Linked DNA regions of Homo sapiens. The protein of the gene in region 1 interacts with the protein of each later gene in a pairwise test. Each region holds a gene or a part of one and is shown in the gene's direction. Other genes may lie near its edges.

Region 1 (7,106 bases):
AAGGTATGGAAGTATGTTGCAAGGAGGCAAAGGGCAGCACTGCAGAGGAGGAGCTGTCTGCAAAGAGGCAGGGGCTGGAGGGAGCTGGAGGGGGCTGCATGTGGAAACAAGTCATGCTGCTGGGGCCACATGTGGAAGGAGGTCTTTGTGCCCTAGGTCTCTCAGAACAATTTTTCATTGTTCTTCCCCACCTGGGGCCCCTTTCTCATTGTTTCTTACTTATCTTATCAGGACTCCACAAACTCTTTTAATCCTCACCACTTGAATGGCCCTGGGGAAGAGAAGGCCATTGCATTGAAATGTAATAGTTCTGAAATTGCTTTCAAAATTCAGCCAGAAATAATAATTTTGCCTGCCTCTTTTCAATTATCCCATACTAAACTTGCCAAGGCCAATTATCATTTTATTCCTCACTGTTTATGCTTTCTGCCTGCAGTATGAGGGATTTGTAAGTACTTTTAGATAGTTTCCTTTAAATTGCCTGTATTTTTCTCCCAGCTAGATTAGAAACAACAACCTCTGTTTTTGAGCAACTTAGGTATCTCTTTTTATCTCAAGGTCTCAGCAACCCTTAAGGCCAGCCCCACCTCCTACTCCCTGCTCAAAAGAAATTATAATACATTCTTTTGTTCACAATAGCTACTAAACAATCATTTGTTGACCACATGCATGCACTGACCTCAGGAGCTTAACAATTTAGGAGAACGCGAGGAGAATAATGCTACTTTGGCCATCATTTCTAGGTTTTATTAACATCATTCTTGCCTGCTAGTTTTTTTTTTTTTTTTAACCTTTCATGTAAATCTTTTGGGAAGGTTTGGGGTGTTTGTGGTTTGTAGATTTGGGTTTGACTTGTATTTGACTTGCTCTTGTGGTAACTAAAGGTTACAACGTAGCTTCAAGGTTGTCATGACAACTGGTAAAATAAAGAGCTGATTATCACATGTTTGTTGGTTCCCTTTTATAGGTGAGGGCCTGGGACAGACGCAGCAGACTGGGATATGCAAAGAGAGGAGTAGCCTAATTGTCAAGTCTAGATCTAACAAAAGCAGTGTCCCAAGATCATGGCATATTTCCCTGGAACTGGAAGGACTGATCAAGAAACACAGCTAGGTTGGTATAATAATGTGTGCGTAGAAATGGGGAGAAGTAAAAACAATTTCTTTAATGTTGTGTTTGCCATTGTAGCATATAGAATTCTTGCTGTTTTTGTATTACTTGTTCCTTTTGATATTCCAATTTGTGTATGTACTATGAGTCCTATTTATATCTTTACAGGTTTGGGGTTCCTGACATGTAGCTGTTCTTTTGTAAAAGAGAGCTCCTTCTCTTTGATAATAGCTGTAAACTTATTACCATCTCATATATTTAGTTATTTCATATTACTCCTTTTCTTAGAAACATAGTCCCTTAGTCACTCTTCCCTTGTCATTTTATTATACCTATTTTCTTAGTGTTGTTGTACTTATTTAAAAATTAGATACTTGTAATGCTTAGGCAGGATGAAATTTTGTCTATTTATTCAAAATATACGTATGAAACCTTACTACCTGCCAAGAATACTAGCAAAAGTTGAAAATTAAAATGAACACAATGGAGGTAAGATTCCCTTGTTCACTGGCCTGCTTCATATTTTTCTGTTATTCAGACAATTTGTTTTTTGACTCTGTTCTGTCTTTAATCACTGCCTTCTGCATTCATCCTGAATTTACTCAGCTTTAACCACCATCTTTTATAAACGTTCAGGTACCCTGGGAATTTTAACAGTGGCTTTTAGGACATCTTGATACTAGCCTGAATTCTCCTGCTATCTAATTATGTGCCATTAATCTCTTTGGAATTTTATCCAACTGTAAAATAGAAATGATTTACCTACTTTACAAGATAACTATGAAAGATAGGCTATTTAAACCTGCATTTATTCATAAAATAATTTCAGAAGTATTTATCAAGTGCTTATGAGTACAGAAATTCAAGGAGATATTCTGAGGCATCTCATTTTTTTTTTTACTTAAACAGAAGGGCAGAGGAATCTTGGCTTTGCCACTTAGTAGTTGCAACTTGAGTAAACCCCTCTGGGCTTTGGTTTCCTCCTGTGAAAAATGGGCATTGTGATGGTGCCTACCTCAAAGAATTATTGTAAACTTTAAATGCAATCACCTATTTAAAGTGATTAGGACAGTACCTGGCACATAGTAAGTGCCCAACAAACGGTAGCTATTACTAATCTGTCTTATATAAGGAATGGAGACTCCACATCATCCTCATGTCTGGGATTTAAGTAATCTAATTCTGCCTAATATACTCAAGTTTGTCTTATTCTATTCCCAGAATGAACAAAGAATACATATTTATTACCTTACATGTCATAACTTGTCACGAACTATCTCAAGACTGTCCCATTATTTTAAGTTCACCACTGGGTAGCTGAGCAGGGTTGATGATTGAACCAATCCAGATAAGTATGTGAAAACATTTTGTAGGCCAGGCGTGGAGGCTCATACCTGTAATCCCAGCACTTTGGGAGGCCGAGGCGGGTGGATCACCTGAGGTCGGGAGTTCGAGACCAGCCTGACCAACATGGAGAAACCCCATCTCTACTAAAAATACAAAATTAGCTGGGAGTGGTGGCACATGCCTGTAATCCCAGCTACTCTGGAGGCTGAGTCAGGAGAATCGCTTGAACCAGGGAGGTGGAGGTTGTGGTGAGCCAAGATTGCGCCATTGCACTCCAGCCTGGGCAACAAGAGCGAAACTCCGTCTCAAAAAAAAAAAAATGTTATCCGTAAAGTGCTATACCAGTGTTATGACTATTTTAATTAATAACTCCCATTTCACTAGGTTTATTTGCCTTGTCTGCCAGTTCTCTATATGGTTACTAAAATGTGTGGTTTTACAAAATTATTAGCATGGAGTTAAGATTTCAGTACTCAGTGTGGCTCATTAAGTGATGGTGAAAATTTCTAAAAGAGTAGTTCTTAAAACGATATGAGCCATGGCAGCATTCTTAGAATGTATGTAGCTTCTAATACTACCTGAAATGAAAACACTGATTTGCATTGATACTAAATTCTGAGATATTTGTTTTTAAAAAAGCCTCACTGCTTTAACTCAAATCTTTGTAAATTAGCTGAGGTCTTTATTTTTTATATGAATAGCTGTGAGGAGCCAGATTATATATAATGTAAAAATACACACTGAGGCAGGCGCGGTGGCTCACGCCTGTAATCCCAGCACTTTGGGAGGACGAGGCGGGCGGATCACCTGAGGTCCAGGAGTTCGAGACCAGCCTGGCCAACATGGTGAAACCCCGTCTCTACTAAAATACAAAAATTAACCAGGCGTGGTGGCGAGCACCTGTAATCCCAGCTACTCGGGAGGCTGAGGCAGGAGAATCGCTTGAACCTGGGAGGTGGAGGTTGCAGTGAGCCGAGATCGCGGCCACTGCACTCCAGCCTGAGCAACAAGAGCGAAATTCCATCTCAAAAAAAAAAAAACAAAAAACTGTACGATTATGGTTTAAAAAAGAAAGAAAGAAACCACACTGAAAACAGTAATTCGTTTGCCAAATGAGCTCAGTTAGGTTAGCACCTTAGCAAGACCCTTTGGGACCAAGTGGCCTCTAAGCACTTAGGTAGCAGTATCTTTTTTTTTTTTTTTTTTTCAGACTTTTGCTTTTCTAAAATTACAAAGGTGTAGTGTGTCTGCTGTTACAGGATGGAAAAATGCATCATAGGAGGTTAGAAGCTTGTTGGCCTCAGTCATAAAGGGATAAGAAAAATGAGAATTAGGCATAGGGCAGGAAGGACCTCACTCCTCCCAACGCTTTCATTTCTAAATAATGCTTAAGGAAACCATGCCAGGGTTAGTAAAAGAGTAGAGGCACAACCACGGTAAGTGGGCATTGGGGAAAGAGGAAGGAGGGCAGGACATGGGGATAAAGCGGTTTCTTAACTGCGCGTGCGCCCCTGGCAAAGCTGACTAAGGCGCCTGAAGTGACGTCATTGCCTGCATCACAACAGGCGTCGTCCGGCTGATAGCTTATCGCAGGCTCTGAGGGGCGGGACCCAACTGATTGTCAAAGGCGGCAGATTGTAGTTTTTGTTTTGGCCGGAAAGGCTTACCATGAGTTGCCAGGGCTGAGAGAGATGGAGAAGGATTCGCGGCGGTGACAGATTAAATTCCCCAGTTACATTATAGACTTGGAGGTGGGGGATCTTCTCATCGTTAGAGGCCCCGATCATGGGAGATAGGCGGTTCGGAGCCAGTTCTGCCTAACTTTGTGTTCACTGATGTTAGGGCTGCTAGGGCTGCAAAGGTGGGCACCCCTACTCGCCTAAGAGCTTTCTCCTCTCTTCTCTTTTTCCCCTTTGCCTCTCTCCTTACATCACCTGCCCACTAAGTAGACTTGTCCTTGTGTGGACGGGAGCCGGAAAGCCTTGAGAACTTATTCCTCGACCCGGACATGGCACAGGAGAAAATGAAACTAGGTTTCAAGTCGCTGCCGAGTTCCACTACCGCAGACGGCAACATTCTGAGAAGAGTCAACAGTGCCCCTTTGATCAATGGACTTGGGTGAGCCGGGTTGAGATACTGGAGGAGGCAAGCGGTGGGGAGGAGGTGTTCGGGAAAGTGATTTCCTATAGAATTCCCGTCCCTTTATTTGTTGAGGTTCTGCAGGTAACTCCCTTGTTCCTGGTGTCCGGAGATCCCACCCTCAACCTTGGGTGGGGGTAGTGGGACGGGCTGACCTGAGGGGGAGCGCGCACCCACCCTGAGGTTGACAAACATCTGAATCTGAACATCCTCCCCTGATAGTCCACTCGGACCCGAAAGTAGCAGCCAGTTGGTGTGGAGCACGGCTTTTTTCTAACTTCAACCCATTTCTTACCCACTCCTTTGAAGAAACTTAGTATCCTCCCCCACTCACCTCCAGATCTTCTGCCATGACTGTAATATTTGTCATTTCAGCTGCTTTGTCACCTCTGACCTTCACCTCCAGCCGCTTGAATGGAAATGGTTGTCAAGCAAATAAGCTTTGGACTTTTTTACATTTTTTTTTTTGTCTTTTTTTGAGACGGAGTCTTGCTCTGTCGCCCAGGCTGGAGTGCATTGGCACGATCTCAGCTTACTGTAACCTCCGCCTCCTGGCTTCAAGCAATTCTCATGCCTCAGCCTCCCTAGTAGCTAGGATTACAGGCGCCCACCACCACACCTGGTAATTTTTTGTATTTTTATTTTTTATTTATTTGTTTATTTATTTTTGAGACGGAGTCTCACTCTGTCGCCCAGGCTGGAGTGCAGTGGCGTGATCTCGGCTCACTGCAAGCTCCACCTCCCGGGTTCACGCCATTCTCCTGACTCAGCCTCCCAAGTAGCTGGGACTACAGGCGCCCACCAACACTCCCGGCTAATTTTTTGTATTTTTAGTAGAGACAGGGTTTCACCGTGTTAGTCAGGATGGTCTTGATCTCCTGACCTCGTGATCCGCCCGCCTCGGCCTCCCAAAGTGCTGGGATTACAGGCGTAAGCCACCGTGCCCGGCCTAATTTTTTGTATTTTTAGTAGAGACAGGGTTTCACCATGTTGGCCAGGCTGGTCTCGAACTCCTGGCCTCAGGGGATCCGCCTGCCTCAGCCTCCCAAAGTGCTGGTATTACAGACGTGAGCCACTGCTCCTGGCCTACACCTATTTTTTATTGGAGCAGAAAGTTTTGGTACCACAGAAGCTTGATCTCCTAAATTACACATTCTCACTGGGTGATACTTCCCCCAAGGGGAAGAGAAAATAGTTCTTGGGGGAGTGTGAAAAATTTTTACTCTTTTTATGTATAAAGCGCAGATATACATACAGTATGTACACAGATATATACTATATATGTGTTATTAAAATTTCACGAAGGGGGAGCAATTAGGGGAAAAATGTCTAAAAAGGCTTTTTAGAGGGTCAATAATGAAAAAAGGATTTAGAAACACTACACTAAATGATGGTTAACTGTATTTCTGAAGATCTGGGATTACTAAATCTTGTTTCCTTTTTTTTTTTTTTTTAAGACGGAGTCTCACTGTGTCGCCCAGGCTGGAGTGCAGTGGCATGATCTCGGCTCACTGCAACCTCTGCCTCCCGGGTTCAAGCGATTCTCCTGCCTCAGACTCCCGAGTAGCTGGGACTTCAGGCACCCGCCACCACGCCCACCTAATTTTTTGTATTTTTAGTAGAGACGGGGTTTCACCGTGTTAGCCAGGATGGTCTTGATCTCCTGACCTTGTGATCCGCCCACCTTGGCCTCCCAAAGTGTTGGGATTACAGGCGTGAGCCACTGCGCCTGGCCTAAATCTTACTTCTTAAACTAGACTTTTAAAATGAGATGTTGGATTTCACATTTCAGTATTATAAGGTTTTCTAGATACCGTAAAAATGTCTGAAAAATGCATTCACTACATATGTTACTAACTTTGCTCTTCACCTTTTGTTGCATCATACTAATTGATAGTTGTAATTCACAGTACCATAGACTATCAGGAAGGGATTCAGAGACCAGCTTTACCCTCCTTGTTTAACATATGAGGAAACTGAGGCCCATAAATCTCCAAAATGACGTTTAGTGGCAGAGCCAGTACTAGGAAGCTCTGTTTCCTGACTCCTAAACTACTGTTCTGGCCACTACTAACCAATACCTAAGCTGATTAACTCTAAATGAATGCAGCTTTTGGGTCATTTGAGGTAGGAGAGAATATATTGTTCACAAAATGAAAAGCAAACTAAGATTGACCAAAAAAAAATACATTACCTTTTTAAAATAGGCAGGTAGAAAAACATAGAAGGGGGACTCTGCATGTTGTGCTGAGAACAAGAACATTTTATTCACTCAGGATTTTGCTCTAATTCTGTTGTGGGAAAAAGGAATTATGGGACCCACTCTACTAGTAGAAGAGAGCAGTAGGGAGAATGTTGGATTTATTGAAGACAATATAAAAAGAAGAAATAGGTTGCAAATAGACGATGGAAGATGTGTACTGGAAGGAACCTGTGGATCCTCTTTAATGTATTAAATACACCAGAGAAGGAGTGGACCCTTCCCTAATCCTTAAAGCCCTGGAAACAGA
Region 2 (7,026 bases), on another chromosome or scaffold:
TACCCAGCAATAATAATTTTTTAAGTGAAAAAAAAGTAATGGTAAAAATTGGAAGTAAACAAAGTAAAAGGTCCCTTCACAATACCTCTTCACTGCTCTACCTAATGCTACATTTACAGACAAATAGAAGGCTTATAATTAGCCAGGAGCTATTAATATTTGAGTCTAAGGAAATGTTGATTAAGTATATGTTAATTTGATTTAATTACTTCACAGACTGATTTTTTTTTTTTTTTCAGGTTCGATCTGGGGCTAATGTTCTAATTTGTGGTCCAAATGGCTGCGGAAAGAGTTCACTTTTCCGTGTTCTTGGTGAAGTAAGTACAAGTTGGCCTCAAAATTTTGCAGTCTTATTTTGCCATACTGTCTACCACTTTGTAAATTTTACAATTGTTCTTCTCCCTTCTCTCTCTTTAATAGTTATGGCCTCTTTTTGGAGGACGTCTAACTAAACCTGAAAGAGGAAAATTATTTTATGTTCCTCAGGTAAGACCTAGCTTGAGTTATCTTTGATCTAAAGATCTTTTTGTTTATTTATTTTTTCATGTTGCTTCTAATTGACTTTTGCTCTACTACTGTCAGAGACCTTACATGACCCTTGGAACACTTCGAGATCAAGTGATATATCCAGATGGACGAGAAGATCAGAAAAGGAAGGGAATTTCTGACCTAGTAAGGGAATGTTTATATCCTAGATCCACTGAAAATACTCCAGATTATTTATTTTAATCAATTAAGTATTTTAAATGCCAGGTAGTTTATCTTAAGCTGTAAAGCCTTCCAAAGCTGTAAATTGTGATTTTCTAAGCTGAGGTAAGATGTTAATCCCTTGGCTTAAAAAGAGTTTAATCTTAACCTTTACACCATTGTTTGTTTTCTCATTGCCATCATCCTTTTACTGTGTACAATAGTGTTATTCTCTTTAAGCTACTAGACATATTTTGTCAAGTTTGGTGTAGATACTAGGAGCTGAAAGGTTCAGGGCTACCTTGTGCCACATTCTTTTCTGAAATGTATCTTTTAAGTGGTACAGACAATAGAATTATAGTGATTCCAGTTTAAAAAATAAACCACTATTAAGAATGTTGGCTTATATTAAGTTTAATTTCATCTTTAATCATTTTGCTGAAAGGTACTGAAGGAATACTTAGACAATGTCCAGTTGGGTCATATCCTTGAACGTGAAGGAGGCTGGGACAGTGTTCAGGATTGGATGGACGTACTCAGTGGTGGAGAAAAGCAAAGAATGGCGGTAAGTATACTGTGAAGAAGTTGCACAAGAATGCAACTGGTTCCAGCATTTTGATTAATCAGGACACAAAGTTTCATCTTATATTTTTTTATTCAGCAGCTGTTTCAGTATGGATTAGTTTAAATTATCATAAAAGTGCTTGAAAATCTTTAACTTGCATGTAAATTTGGAATTCTGAAAAATTCATAAATACCCTGCCAGTATCTATGAAAGGAAAAGCTGCAGATCCGACTATATACCAATAATCCATTTTTCTAAAAGTTCAGAGAAACTCTGTAGCTCATTATTCCTGGGATATAAGGTAATCCTGGCTGGGTTATGAAATTTCTTCTCATGTCTCTTCCCTATAGACATCTCTTTTGTATCACTCAGGCTATTCTTTCTGAAATAGCTGAAGGTATTAGAAACGATCCATTCAAATTTTATCTTTATTCTGTTCTTGCCCTTTTCCTCCACTATTATATGTATGTTTTTGTTTCAAGGTTCAGTATCTACTACTTAAAGTTACTTAGAATTTTTAAGTTTTCCTAATATAAACAAGCATTTGAAAGAAACTACTTTAATTGTTATGATGACTAAACTTGTCTCAAACCAAAAATATGCGCTAAACACTACGTAGTAAGAATGAGACCAGCCTGGGCAACATAGCAAGACCCTTTCTCTACAAAAAAAAATTTAAAAATTATCTGGGCGTAGTGGCACACACCTATAGTCCTAGCTACTGGGAGGCGGAAAGATTGCTTGAGCCCAGGAGTTTGAGGCTGCATTGGGCTGTGATCACACACCGTGGCACTCCAGGCTGGGCGATAGAAGGAGATCGTCTCTCTAAAAATAAATAAATAAATAAAAATTTAAAAAGAACGGTAGTTTGGGTACCTTGTCAAGAGGGGCAACTTCATAAAGAGTCATTTTTTAACTATATATTTCATAGTTTGAATAGATCCAAGCAAGAGATTCTCCTCTCCCCCTGCAGAGTATGGAGATTAGAGAAAACTGTAGCTAAGGAAAGAAAGCAAAAGAAATTGGCTTATGGCAGAATTTCTGACCCATTATATTCAGGTTATATTCCACCTTTTTGTTACCTCCGAGTCCCTGATTTTGCAAGTTGTTTTTCCCAAAATCATACCCACTCTACATGAGGTTAATATTAACCTAATAGTGTGACTTGCCTGGCTAGTGCTATAACGTGAGATGAATCTAGTGTGAAGAGTAAATCATAAATGAGAGAGATAATAGCTATATTCAAAATGGAAATTAGGCTGAAGGAGTGAAAATTTGAAATGATTAGGCATTTCTAGAGTCAATTTAGAAGATGACTATAGAAATAACTGCAAAAAAGAGCTGCAAAATAACTTTAAATTTCTGTACTATGTCTTCAGAGAAAATGGAAGGATGTGGTTCAGAAATGGACACGACGGAAACTCAGAGAATGAATAATGAATGTACTTAAACCAAGGAACAGTGTGTGTGTGGTATAAAAGTACAGGAGGGATAATTTTGATTTGAAGATTAGGAATTCAAAGGCGTGCCCAGAGCAGTGGGGGGCTGAGGCGGGAGAATCACTTCAACCCGGGAGGCATAGGCTGCAGTGAGCCAAGATCATGCCACTACACTCTAGCCAGGGCAACAGAGCAAGACTCTGTCTCAAAAGAAAAAAAAAAAAAAAAAAACACATGATCCATAATAGAGGCGTTTGGGAAATGGGGAAAGCTCACCTGTGACACCACTGCATATATAACTGGAGCATGGCCAAGCCATTGTCTAGAGAATTGAATGTGATGTGTAAAAGAGAGCCTGTTGTTTTGTTTCAGAGGGTGGAAAGGAGAAGGCTAACGCTACAAATACTAACGTTGGTGAAATTAGGTAAAGATTATATATGTGTATTCATTTTACTGTCCTTTCAGTTTTTTGGTAGGATTGAAAATTACCAAAGTAGAAAGTTGAGGGGAAAGTAGGTATTAGAATTTTTAGGAAGAACAGACCTAAAAGGCCTAGCCACTTAGAACAGTGAGTCAGCCAGGGTTGCTCCAGCTAATGTCACAATTTGGGATATCTTGTGTTTCTGACCAAAAGTTATCTTTTCCACTCCATTTTTCTTGCTCTTCCTATTTAGTAATAACTTTTCTTATTTTGAATTATGAAAAAGTATATATGATGGAAAAGTGGAATATTTATTTAAGTATAAATTGGGCCAAACCCCTTTACCAGAGATACCACTGTTATAAAATTTTTAGTGTTTTTTTAATCCATTTTTGTAAATCTTTTTTTTTTTTACCTTAAATTAGCAACTATCCCCCTTTCTCAAATTCCCTGAGATCTCTAGAATATTAATCCTTCCCTTTCCTTACAATTGTTCAGTCCTTTTCTGTCTCTGCCTCCTTTCCTGTCCAGTACAGACTTCATAATCCAGGGTGTGGCCCATAGGAGATAAGATATATTTCTTAAGGAATGAACAGTTCATCCCTTCCCCTTAACTTCCTTTCCCACTTTTTGTGTCATCGTATTACCTAAATCCCAGCCCAGTTATTTGCCTTGGCACTTCTCTAACCGCTCTTCTGAGCACAGCTAAAAAACATCAGATGGGCTCACAGCATGGCTTAGCAATCATTTTACTTATTTTTATCCTTCTCTCATTTTTCATGACAATCATTTTAAAACTACCAATTTTGGGTTTTCTACCCCGTTACTTAACCCACTGCACTTGGCAGAATAACTCGCCTTCTACTTTTCAAAGAAAGATAGGCTATTATTTCAATTAAATGACAGCTAATTTTTATTGAGTGCTGAAAAGATGACAGACAGTATGTCAGGCACCTTACACAGGTGATCTCATTTCATCCTCACAACAGTCCTGTGAGGTAAGAACTGGGAATGCCCCCCTAGTTTTTTTTTTTTTTTTTGAGACAGAGTCTCATTCTGTCGCCCAGGCCGGAGTGCAGTGGCACAATCTCAGCTTACCGTAATCTCTGCCTCCCAGGTTCAAGAGATTCTCCTGCCTCAGCCTCCCAAGTAGCTGGGATTACAGGCATGCACCACCACGCCTGGCTAATTTTTGTATTTTTTTTTGTAGAGATGGGGTTTCACCATGTTGGCCAGGCTGGTCTCGAGCTCCTGACCTCAAGTGATCCACCTGCTTCGACCTCCCAATGTGCTGGGATTTCATGCGTGAGCCGCCGCGCCCCATTTTACAGAGGAAATTGAACTTTTGTGCAATTCAGTAGCTGGCCAAGCAAAGACAGCTAGTAAATGTTAAAGCTGGTGGTGGGGGCTTTGTCAGGCTTAGGCAAGCAGTATGGCTGCAGTGTGCATATGCTTATTCACTTTACAACAAGCTTGTCCAACCTGTGGCTCACGGACACATGCAGCCCAGGACAGCTTTGAATGCAACCTAACACAAATTCATAAACTTTCTTAAAATCTTATGAGATTTTTTTGTGTGTGTAATTTTTTTTAAGCTCATCAGATATCGTTAGTGGTAGTGTATTTTATGTGTGGCCCAAGACAATTCTTATTCTTCCAGTGTGGCCCAGGGAAACCAAAAAATTGGACACTCCTGCTTTACAACTTTCTTGTATTGTGGCATTAAGTAGCTGACAGCATAGTGGGAGCGAGAGAGACACATGTTGAGAAAATGTCCATGTCATGTAGTAAGTGTGGTGATGAATGTACGCAGAGAGTCCTTTGGGAGCAGAGAGGAGAGGCATTGGTGGAATGCCCTCAGATAACCATTCCTCTTAATTAACTGTGTGCTGCTCTGTCCTGACCTCCCTACTTCCGCTGTCTTGGAGGATATGTCATCCTTCTTGAGAAAGGCAAATACTTCCATCTATGTTTATGGAGCCTCTGTCTTCTGACTTTATCACATCCTTTTCCTTCAGTTATATCCCCTCCCGCAGCCCCCACCTACATTTAACCTCTTCTAGTCCTTCTCTTGTGGAAAGACATTTTTCAGGTCTCTTTGATCTAAAAAGCAAACTCTGCCTTAGCCAAAGCTTCTCTGTGATCTGTACCTTTCATTTTCTGCACAGTTGAACTTCTTCATAGTCTATACTTGCTGCCTCCCCTTCCTCACTTCATGCAAACAGGTGGAAAGCTGTTTTAGTCATTCATTTATTAGATAGTTGAATGCTACCCATATATAAGTGTCAAGTACATGGTAGTGATTAAAACAGTCTCTGCTTTTCTGAATTTTTTTTTTTTTTTTGAGGCAGTCTCACTGTTTCACCTAGGCTGGAGTGCAGTGGCACAATCTTGGCTCACTGCAACCTTCACCTCTCAGGTACAAGTGATTCTTTTTTTTTTTTTTTTTTTTTTTTGAGACAAAGTCTCACTCTGTTGCCGAAGCTGGAGTACACTGGCACGATCTCAGCTTACTATAACCTCCACCTCCTGGGTTCAAGCGATTCTCCTGCCTCAGCCTCCTGAGTAGCTGGGACTACAGGCACGCATCACCATGCCCAGCTAATTTTTGTATTTTTAGTAGAGACAGGGTTTCACTATGTTGGCCAGGCTTGTCTTGAACTCCTAACCTTGTGATCTGCCTGCCTCAGCCTCCCAAAGTGCTGGGATTACAGGCGTGAGCTGCTGCGCCCGGCCAGGTACAAGCAATTCTTGTTCCTCAGCCTCCCAGGTAGCTGGGACTACAGGTATGCACCACCATGACTGGCTAATTTTTGTATTTTTAGTAGATACGAGGTTTCACCATGTTGGCCAGGCTAGTCTCGAACTCCTAGCCTCAAGTGATCTGCCCTCCTCAGCCCCACAAAGTGCTGGGATTATATATGAAGTGCTTCAGAGGTGTTACAGAAAGGACCCACTTGGATTGTGGCTAGGGATGAGGGTAGGTTTGCCTGAGATGACATTATAAGCAGAAATCTGAAAGCTCTAAGGAACAGAATAAGGCATTTGAGACATCAGAAAAGAATGATGTGTGTTTAAGGCTCTAAGGTGTAAAGCACCTTGTTCCTAGCAGTTGAGAGGAGGCGGTGTTGGCTAGAATGTTGGGGTTAGAGCGTGAGTAGAAATAAGATTGTGCAGGTCTTGTAGACTGTGGTAAGGAGTTTGAGTTTTAAGTGAAATGGGAAGTTGTTGAAGGGTTTTAAGCCAGAGAGTGAAGTTCCCTGATTGACATTTGTGAAAGATGTTCTCTGGTTACATGGAGAGTGGACTGGAGAGGAGCAGCAGAAGTGGTAGGAGGCTACTTGTAGTCTATCCAGACAGGAGATGAGTGTGCTCTGGGCTAAGGGCATGTTTGTGGAGATGAGGAAAAGTGAGTGAACTTGAAACTTCACATTTCTTTCTTGAATGGACTTTTTAGTTCATTTTAAAAATAGCTGTGGGAGAGTGAAAGGGAAGAGGAAAAGGGAAGGACCAGACCAGGGAGGACTCCTGGCTTTCTAGCTGGAGCAACTGTTTGATAGTTTCATTTGCTGAAGTGTTCAAGATTAGGGAAGGGAATGGATTTTAGAGGGAAAATCTAGAAATTACATTTGAGTTTTAGACTTTTAACGTTTGAGAGTCCTGTGAGATACCCAAGTAGAAACTCAAAGAGGAATTTTTATTTTTAATTTTTTAAATGTTTTAAATTTAAAATGTTTGTTTTTTGAGATAGCGTCTTGCTGTTTCAGCCAGGCTGGAGTGCAGTGGCCTGATCATAGCTCACTACAGCCTTGAGCCTTGACCTACTGGGCTCAAGCCCTCCTGTCTTAGCCTCCTGAGTAGTTGGAACCACAGATGAACACCACCATGCTTGGCTAATTTTTTTTTTTTTTTTT
Region 3 (7,026 bases), about 110 Mb from region 1:
TAATCTTTTGTACAGATGGTATCTTGCTATGTTGCCAGGCAGGTCTCAAACTCCTGGGCTCAAGTGATCCTCCCACCTCCGCCTCCCAAAGTGTTGGGATTACAGGCATGAGCCACTATGCACCAGCCATGATTTTCTATTATTATTATTATTCCTTCCTCATTTATTAGCTGGTATTTTCTCAACAAACTTTCCCTCATCAACTATGATGATTTAATTACTTGAAATAACGCTCATCCAAGAAAAAGAGAATAAATACTTAATTCTTTTCTTAAATTGTTTCTAATGTCAGAGCCCTAGTTACTTCCTAGTGGGGGTAGTATCCAGTGAGTCGAGTTTTTGTATTTTGACTTTGCTTTTTCTTACTTTACATAATAAACTCATGGGATTTAATAATCAGTGTGATTCAGCCAATTGCAGTCATTATTTTTAATGCCCTAATTGTTCTTTTTCTGACTACCTTTTAAATGGTCTTATCCCCCAGGATCCGTCTATGATATGCTTTTCTTCCCCCTCTGCACTCTTTCCTGACTGACTTCAGTCTTTCCTATAACTACCCTCCACATTTTAATTACTCTCAAATCACTCTTTCTTACATGAATTTACCAGGCATTAGACCTGTGTTTCTATTTACTCACCTGCCTGGCCCTCCCAAAACATATTACATGCATGACTTCACATCTTTGAACTAAATGTATCTTTATTTGCTGTTCTTTTCTTATACTCCCAGTTATCAGCATTTTCATGCACCCTCTTCCAAGCCAGAAACCAGGAAATCATTTTTTATTCCTTCTCTCTTTTGCATAATTAGGTATTCTCCAAATTCGATCTCAGAATTATTTCACTGTTCCAGCCTTTCCTCTGAATTAAACTGCTTAAAGTATTCAGAAAACAGTGACCTCTTACCCATACTATCTGACCACATTCCTAAGTTGATTGCCTACCACTTATGACCTCTTCCCACTCCAAATTGTTCTCTATTACCCTTGGAGTTACCTTCTTGAAAATAAGTCTAGTCATGTTAGTCCAGTTTCAGGACCTCTGCTGCATCCTTGTTACCTAATACAATAGTGTTTCCCCAGATTTGTCCAAGAGAATATTAATTCTACAAGATATTAATAGGTATTCTTTGAAAAAGAGGTGCTGGAAATAAATACTTAGAAAATACTGATTTCACCCATAATCCCAGCACTTTGAGAGGCTGAAGTGGGAGGATCACTTGAGGCTAGGAGTTCAAAACCAGCCTAGTCAACATGGCAAAACTCCATCTCTACAAAAAAAAAAAAAAAAAAAAAAAAAGCCAGGTGTGGTAGCACACACCTGTAATCCCAACTACTTGGGAGGCTGAGACACGAGAATCCCTTGAACCCAGAAGGCAGAGATTGCAGTGAGCCGAGATTGTGCCACTGCAGTCCAGCCTGGATACTCTGTCTTAAAAAAAAAAAAAAAAAAAACTGATTTGTTTGCTCTAGATTTCTCAGCCTTTTTATATGCAGTGTATTTTAATTCTGTGTGTCTAATAGGGGGATATAATAAATAGCATTCTACAAGCTCATTGGGTCATGAATTTTTTTATTGTTGCTAACTATCTAGAGGGATTAATGTTATTCAGTAAAATTTGGGGAAACACTAGCCAAATGAATAAATTGTTAGCCTTTAGATTGCATTGAAGACCTTTCATAATCTCCCATGTTAAATTAAATATCCCCTACTGTTCCCTTGTCACTCTTTGCATATGTTCTTCTGCATTTGTCTCTTAATGTACTAGCATTATCTGTATCCATCTTCACCATGGACCATGAGTTTCATGGGCTCTCTTTATCTCTGTATCCTCAGCACTAAACAGTGTCTGGCATGTAATAGCTCAATAACAACCCACTGAATAATAAATGGATCTGTTTCTGAAATAGGAATTTTCCCCAGCTCTATTATTATTGTCATACTTACAGGATCATTGGTTTCTTTAATTTGTAGGTTTGGAAAAAGAATTAAAATTAGAGCTGAAACAGACCTTCAAGTTCATCTAGGCCAGCAGTTTTTAGACTGTGTATCTTCAATATTTCACAATCCTCTTTCCCACAGTTCCCCTTCCCTTCAGGGGCTGTTAAAGGGAATAGAAAGGAAAAAGTGGCATATGAAACACATGTTCTCTTAGCAGCTTTAAATGTTAGGTTTCTTAAATTCCCTTTGAGGAGGAGTTCCGAGGCTATACTTTGGGAGCTATTGGTCTAGAGACCAATCCCTTTGCTTATGAAGAAATGATAACAGGCCCAGAATAATTGGCTTTCCCACTGTCACAAAGTTCTTAGTAACAGAGCCAGAACTAGGATTCAAATGATCTTACTTTCACAGTGCTCTTTGCAAAATTTTGAAAAATGAAAAAGCTTATTAGATTATGAACTAAAATTCAGTTATGTGTTCACATGAAAACCTGTACATAAATGTTCACTGTAGCTTTATTCATATTAGCCCCAAACTGGGCACAACCCAAATGTCCTTCAACAGATAATGGATAAATAAACTGTGACATATTCATACAGAAGCCATACATGTAATAAAATGGCATAGAACTAAACACACACACAAATAAGTGCAAATAAAACCAGTGCCATGTGAATGAGATCATTGGATTGTCTCCATGTCAATATCCTGGATGTGATATTGTACTGTAGTTTTGTAAGATGTTACCATTGGGGGAAACTGGGTAAAGGGCACAGGGGATCTCTCTGTATTATTTCTTACAACTGAGTGTGAATCTACAAGTATCTCAAAAAGTTTAATTTAAGAATTTTTAAAAATAAAAATACAGATGCCTCCAAAAAATAAAATATTATGTGGATTTATTATTTAGAGCCAAACTTGGAATGCCACAGTTTTTGAGTCCTGAAGCGCAGAGTCTTTTACGAATGCTTTTCAAGCGAAATCCTGCAAACAGATTAGGTAAAAATTTTAACTAATTTGTTTATGTTGTATGTTTGTTGGTGTTTGTTTTTAGCGGGGAGTAGATATTTGTTTTGTGGTGGAATTATTAACTATTTAGACAAGGCTAGGCCTGGTGGCTCACGCCTGTAATCCCAGCACTTTGGGAGACCAAGGCGGGAGAATTACTTGAGTCCAGGAGTTCAAGACCAGCCTGGGAAAAATGGCAAAACCTCATCTTTACAAAAAATACAAAAATTAGCCAGGCATGGTGGTGCGTGCCTGTAGTCCCAGCTACTCAGGAAGTTGAGGTAGGAGGATCACTTGAGCCTGAGAGGTTGAGGCTGCAGTGAACTGAGATCACACCACTGCGCTCCAGCCTGGGTGACAGAGCAAGCCCTTGTCTCAAAATTAATTAATTAATTAATTAATTAATTAGACAAGTATTGAAAACAAAGGCTGAGCAATATGTATATTTCTCCTTGAAATAAAATTATCAGTGAATCCATTTTTGATAGGTGCAGGACCAGATGGAGTTGAAGAAATTAAAAGACATTCATTTTTCTCAACGATAGACTGGAATGTAAGTATAGAATGAAAACTTGCTTGAAATATTTCTTTATAATTAAAATATGTCTAAGTCTCTTTTTTTTTTCCCCTCCAGAAACTGTATAGAAGAGAAATTCATCCGCCATTTAAACCTGCAACGGGCAGGCCTGAAGATACATTCTATTTTGATCCTGAGTTTACTGCAAAAACTCCCAAAGGTAAGGAGAAAATGTGAAAATCCAAATATAAGACAACAAATATGTTTTTTTCTTGTTTCATCAGAAAATCTTTTCCAGACTCTGGGCGCGGTGGCTCACACTTGTAATCCCAGCACTTTGGGAGGCTGAGGCGAGCAGATCGCTTGAGGCCAGGAGTTGGAGACCAGCTTGGCCAACATAGTGAAACGCTGTCTCTACTAAAAATACCAAAATTAGCCAGGTTTGGTGGCATGTGCCTGTAATCCCAGCTACTTGGGTGGCTGAGGCACGAGAATCGCTTGAACCTGGGAGGTGGAGGTTGCAGTGCATCAAAATTGCACCACTGCACTCCAGCCTGGGTGACAGAGCGACACTCTGTCTCAAAAAGAAAAAAAGAAAATCTTTTCCTGGATAACTCTCTAAGCTATCTTCACATCTCCTAAATTTGCTGTAGATCAACCTTGTATCTCCCCTGTTCCACCCCAACTAGGTTATTATTGAGGGCTGCAGTTTCTAATATGGTAGCCAGTAGCCACATGTGGCTAATTAAATTTAAATTAATTAAAATTTAAAGTGTAGTTTCTCAGTCACGCTAGGCACGTTTCAAATGTCGAAAAGCTGCATGTAGCTAGTGGCTATCAGACTGTAAAGTTAAAGAAAATTTCCATCATTTCAGGAAATTCCATGGGACAGCATTAATTTTGAATACCATTAACCCTATAATTCATCGATGTATTATAGTCTTCAAATGAATTAGCTATTTTCTAGGCTCCGAGGGACTAGGATGTTGGTGTTGTAATGGCAATACACAATCAGAACAGATCTGATACAGTGCCTCACAGGTATCCTGGAAAGCAAGAGGTATATACTGTGTACCTGAGAAATAGAATTCCAGAATAAGTGAAAAAGGTCATAGTGTCAACAGTTTTTCCCTTAATTTCCTTTCAAATGAATCTTCTTTGTCACTTCTTACTCTTTTCAGATTCACCTGGCATTCCACCTAGTGCTAATGCACATCAGCTTTTTCGGGGGTTTAGTTTTGTTGCTATTACCTCAGATGATGAAAGCCAAGCTATGCAGACAGTTGGTGTACATTCAATTGTTCAGGTGAGTGGATGTCTAAATAATTTTAGATTTGGAATGTTGTAAGATATAGTTCATTCTGTGAATAGATCTTTTTCTACTGACTTCAAGTGAGCAATTTAAAATACATTTTAGACTGGGCATAGTGGCTCACACCCGTAATCCCAGCACTTTGGGAGGCCAAGGCAGTTGGATCACTTGAGGTCAGAAGTTCAAGACCAGCCTGGCCAACATGGTGAAACCCCTATCTCTACTAAAAATACAAAAATGAGTTGGGCATAGTGGCACGTGCCTGTAATTCCAGGTACTCAGGAGGCTGAGGCACAAGAATCACTTGATTCTGAGGCAGAGGTTGCAGTGAGCGGAGATCGCACCACTGCACTCCAGCCTGGGTGACAGAGTTGAAACTCTGTCTCAAAAAATAAAATAAAATACATTTTATATCATTAACTTTACTCTTAGGAATTTTTTTCATATGTCATCGAAAAGGTTGCAAGAACCAAAATCCTAGATACCTATGTGACTTGAAAGTAGAGTTTTAGGCCAGGTGCGGTGGCTCATGCTTGTAATCCCAGCACTTTGGGAGGCCGAGGCGGGCAGATCACAAGGTCAGGAGTTCGAGACCAGCCTGTCCAACACAGTGAAACCCCGTCTCTACTAAAAATACAAAAATTAGCTGGGCGTGGTGGCGCATGCCTGTAATCCCAGCTACTTAGGAGGCCGAGGCAAGAGAATCACTTGAACCCGGGAGGCAGAGTTTGCAGTGAGCCGAGATCCGCCACTGTACTCCAGCCTGGGCGACAGAGCTAGACTCTGTCTCAGAAAAAAAAAAAAAAAAAAGAAAGTAGAATTTTAAAAGAGTTGAGATAAACATGACGATGTTGTCTATATCCTCTCCTGTGCCTCAAAATGTTTTTCATGCCGAGTTTGTTTCACCCTCTGCCTCCTTCAGGTCAGCTATGATGAATTGAGGTCTTCTGGTTCTTTGATGCCTTAGAACAGGAGTCGGCAGACTTTCTCTGTGAAGGGTCAGATAATACTTGAGGCTTTGTGGGCTATATGGGCTGTGTCACAACTACTCAACTCTGCTATGTAGCACAAAACAACCACAGACAATACATAAACAAGTGGGCATGGCTGTGCACCAATAAAACTTTATTTACACACACAGGCAATGAATCAGATTTGGCTCACTGGCCATAGTTTGTCAACCTTTGCCTTAGAAAAGATACAAGAAATAAAAATGAACTCAAATCTTAAGTCATCTTTCTAATCAAAGGGAACTCGATATATCTTTTGAAGCATTGGATTCTTTTTAGGATATCATTTGTACTTGGATTTGCTTGATGATTAAGTTGCTTTTGCTCTAAAGTTTTTTCATGAGTCAGTTATCCTGTTTTCCATTTTGTAGAAAAACAATTAAAACACTGGTTTTTAAGCAGAGCTCATGTTGAAATAGTCTGTGCCATTTACTATGCAAGCACATGAATGTATGGCAAGTTTTTAAATTACAAATTCTGTACCTAACATAGAAACCACAAACTTGTATATCCTACAAAATTCAAGTTTTAACATATACAAAGCTCATAGGCATGGATGTCTCATATCAGTATAGCCAAGGGCAGCACAACTTTCCTCAGCCTGTTTATGGAATCAGTAAGTTGCTGTTCATCATCTACTGTGTGTTATTAGTCCCTAACCCATGACGAGCTTCTTTAGCATAAGTTGTGTAAGGCTATGACTTCAGGGTGAAGAAAGGAGGGAGTGGCTACTGAAAGTCCAAAATGGCGATAACAGGTATTGCTTGCAAATACATTATTTTTATTTAATCTTCACCATTACCCTCTGAGAAAATACAGGCTCAAAGTTACATAGCCTGTAAGTGGTGTACCTGAGACAAGAATTCAGATATTCTAATTCTGAATCCTCCTAAATCCTTTCCTTCTATACCATAGGTTTCAAACTTCTCATTTGCAAAGGTACTTGAAAACCTATAGCCGACTGGGGACTGGAATAAGGCTGAATCACAGACAAAGATGTAGGCCCCATATCAAGTAGCTCTGCTTTTTCTGTTGTGCAAATTCAATTTTTGTTTGTAACATAAGCTTTTTTAAGTCATATTTCTTGCTGTACACTTCATTGTAAACACTTTCAAAATCACTTGTTTGTAGAATAATAAGTACTATAAAGATGTATTTTTATTCTTATTCATTTATATGTAGGGCATCAACAATGCATGCTGAGTAACATACTTCCCTATTATAAAATGCACTAAAGG

What was found. The genes of interacting proteins can lie anywhere in the genome.
Region 2: the proteins of PABIR3 (region 1) and ABCD3 interact in binary tests that used the Homo sapiens proteins (3 or more experiments, as listed by UniProt).
Region 3: the proteins of PABIR3 (region 1) and RPS6KA3 interact in binary tests that used the Homo sapiens proteins (3 or more experiments, as listed by UniProt).

Annotation. Positions count from the first base shown.
Region 1 is NC_000023.11:134,803,134-134,810,239, forward strand, and holds the start of PABIR3 (PABIR family member 1), read left to right. Parts: upstream 1-4,103; 5' UTR 4,104-4,208; exon of another isoform or gene 4,209-4,406; coding exon of another isoform or gene 4,407-4,465; coding exon 4,466-4,575; intron 4,576-6,053; coding exon of another isoform or gene 6,054-6,240; exon of another isoform or gene 6,241-7,106.
Region 2 is NC_000001.11:94,498,363-94,505,388, forward strand, and holds part of ABCD3 (ATP-binding cassette sub-family D member 3), read left to right. Parts: intron 1-239; coding exon 240-317; intron 318-420; coding exon 421-486; intron 487-582; coding exon 583-672; intron 673-1,132; coding exon 1,133-1,252; intron 1,253-7,026. UniProt on the Homo sapiens protein: Broad substrate specificity ATP-dependent transporter of the ATP-binding cassette (ABC) family that catalyzes the transport of long-chain fatty acids (LCFA)-CoA, dicarboxylic acids-CoA, long-branched-chain fatty acids-CoA and bile acids from the cytosol to the peroxisome lumen for beta-oxydation.
Region 3 is NC_000023.11:20,172,910-20,179,935, reverse strand, and holds part of RPS6KA3 (ribosomal protein S6 kinase alpha-3), read left to right. Parts: intron 1-2,851; coding exon 2,852-2,940; intron 2,941-3,419; coding exon of another isoform or gene 3,420-3,437; coding exon 3,438-3,502; intron 3,503-3,583; coding exon 3,584-3,686; intron 3,687-4,647; coding exon 4,648-4,772; intron 4,773-7,026. UniProt on the Homo sapiens protein: Serine/threonine-protein kinase that acts downstream of ERK (MAPK1/ERK2 and MAPK3/ERK1) signaling and mediates mitogenic and stress-induced activation of the transcription factors CREB1, ETV1/ER81 and NR4A1/NUR77, regulates translation through RPS6 and EIF4B phosphorylation, and mediates cellular proliferation, survival, and differentiation by modulating mTOR signaling and repressing pro-apoptotic function of BAD and DAPK1.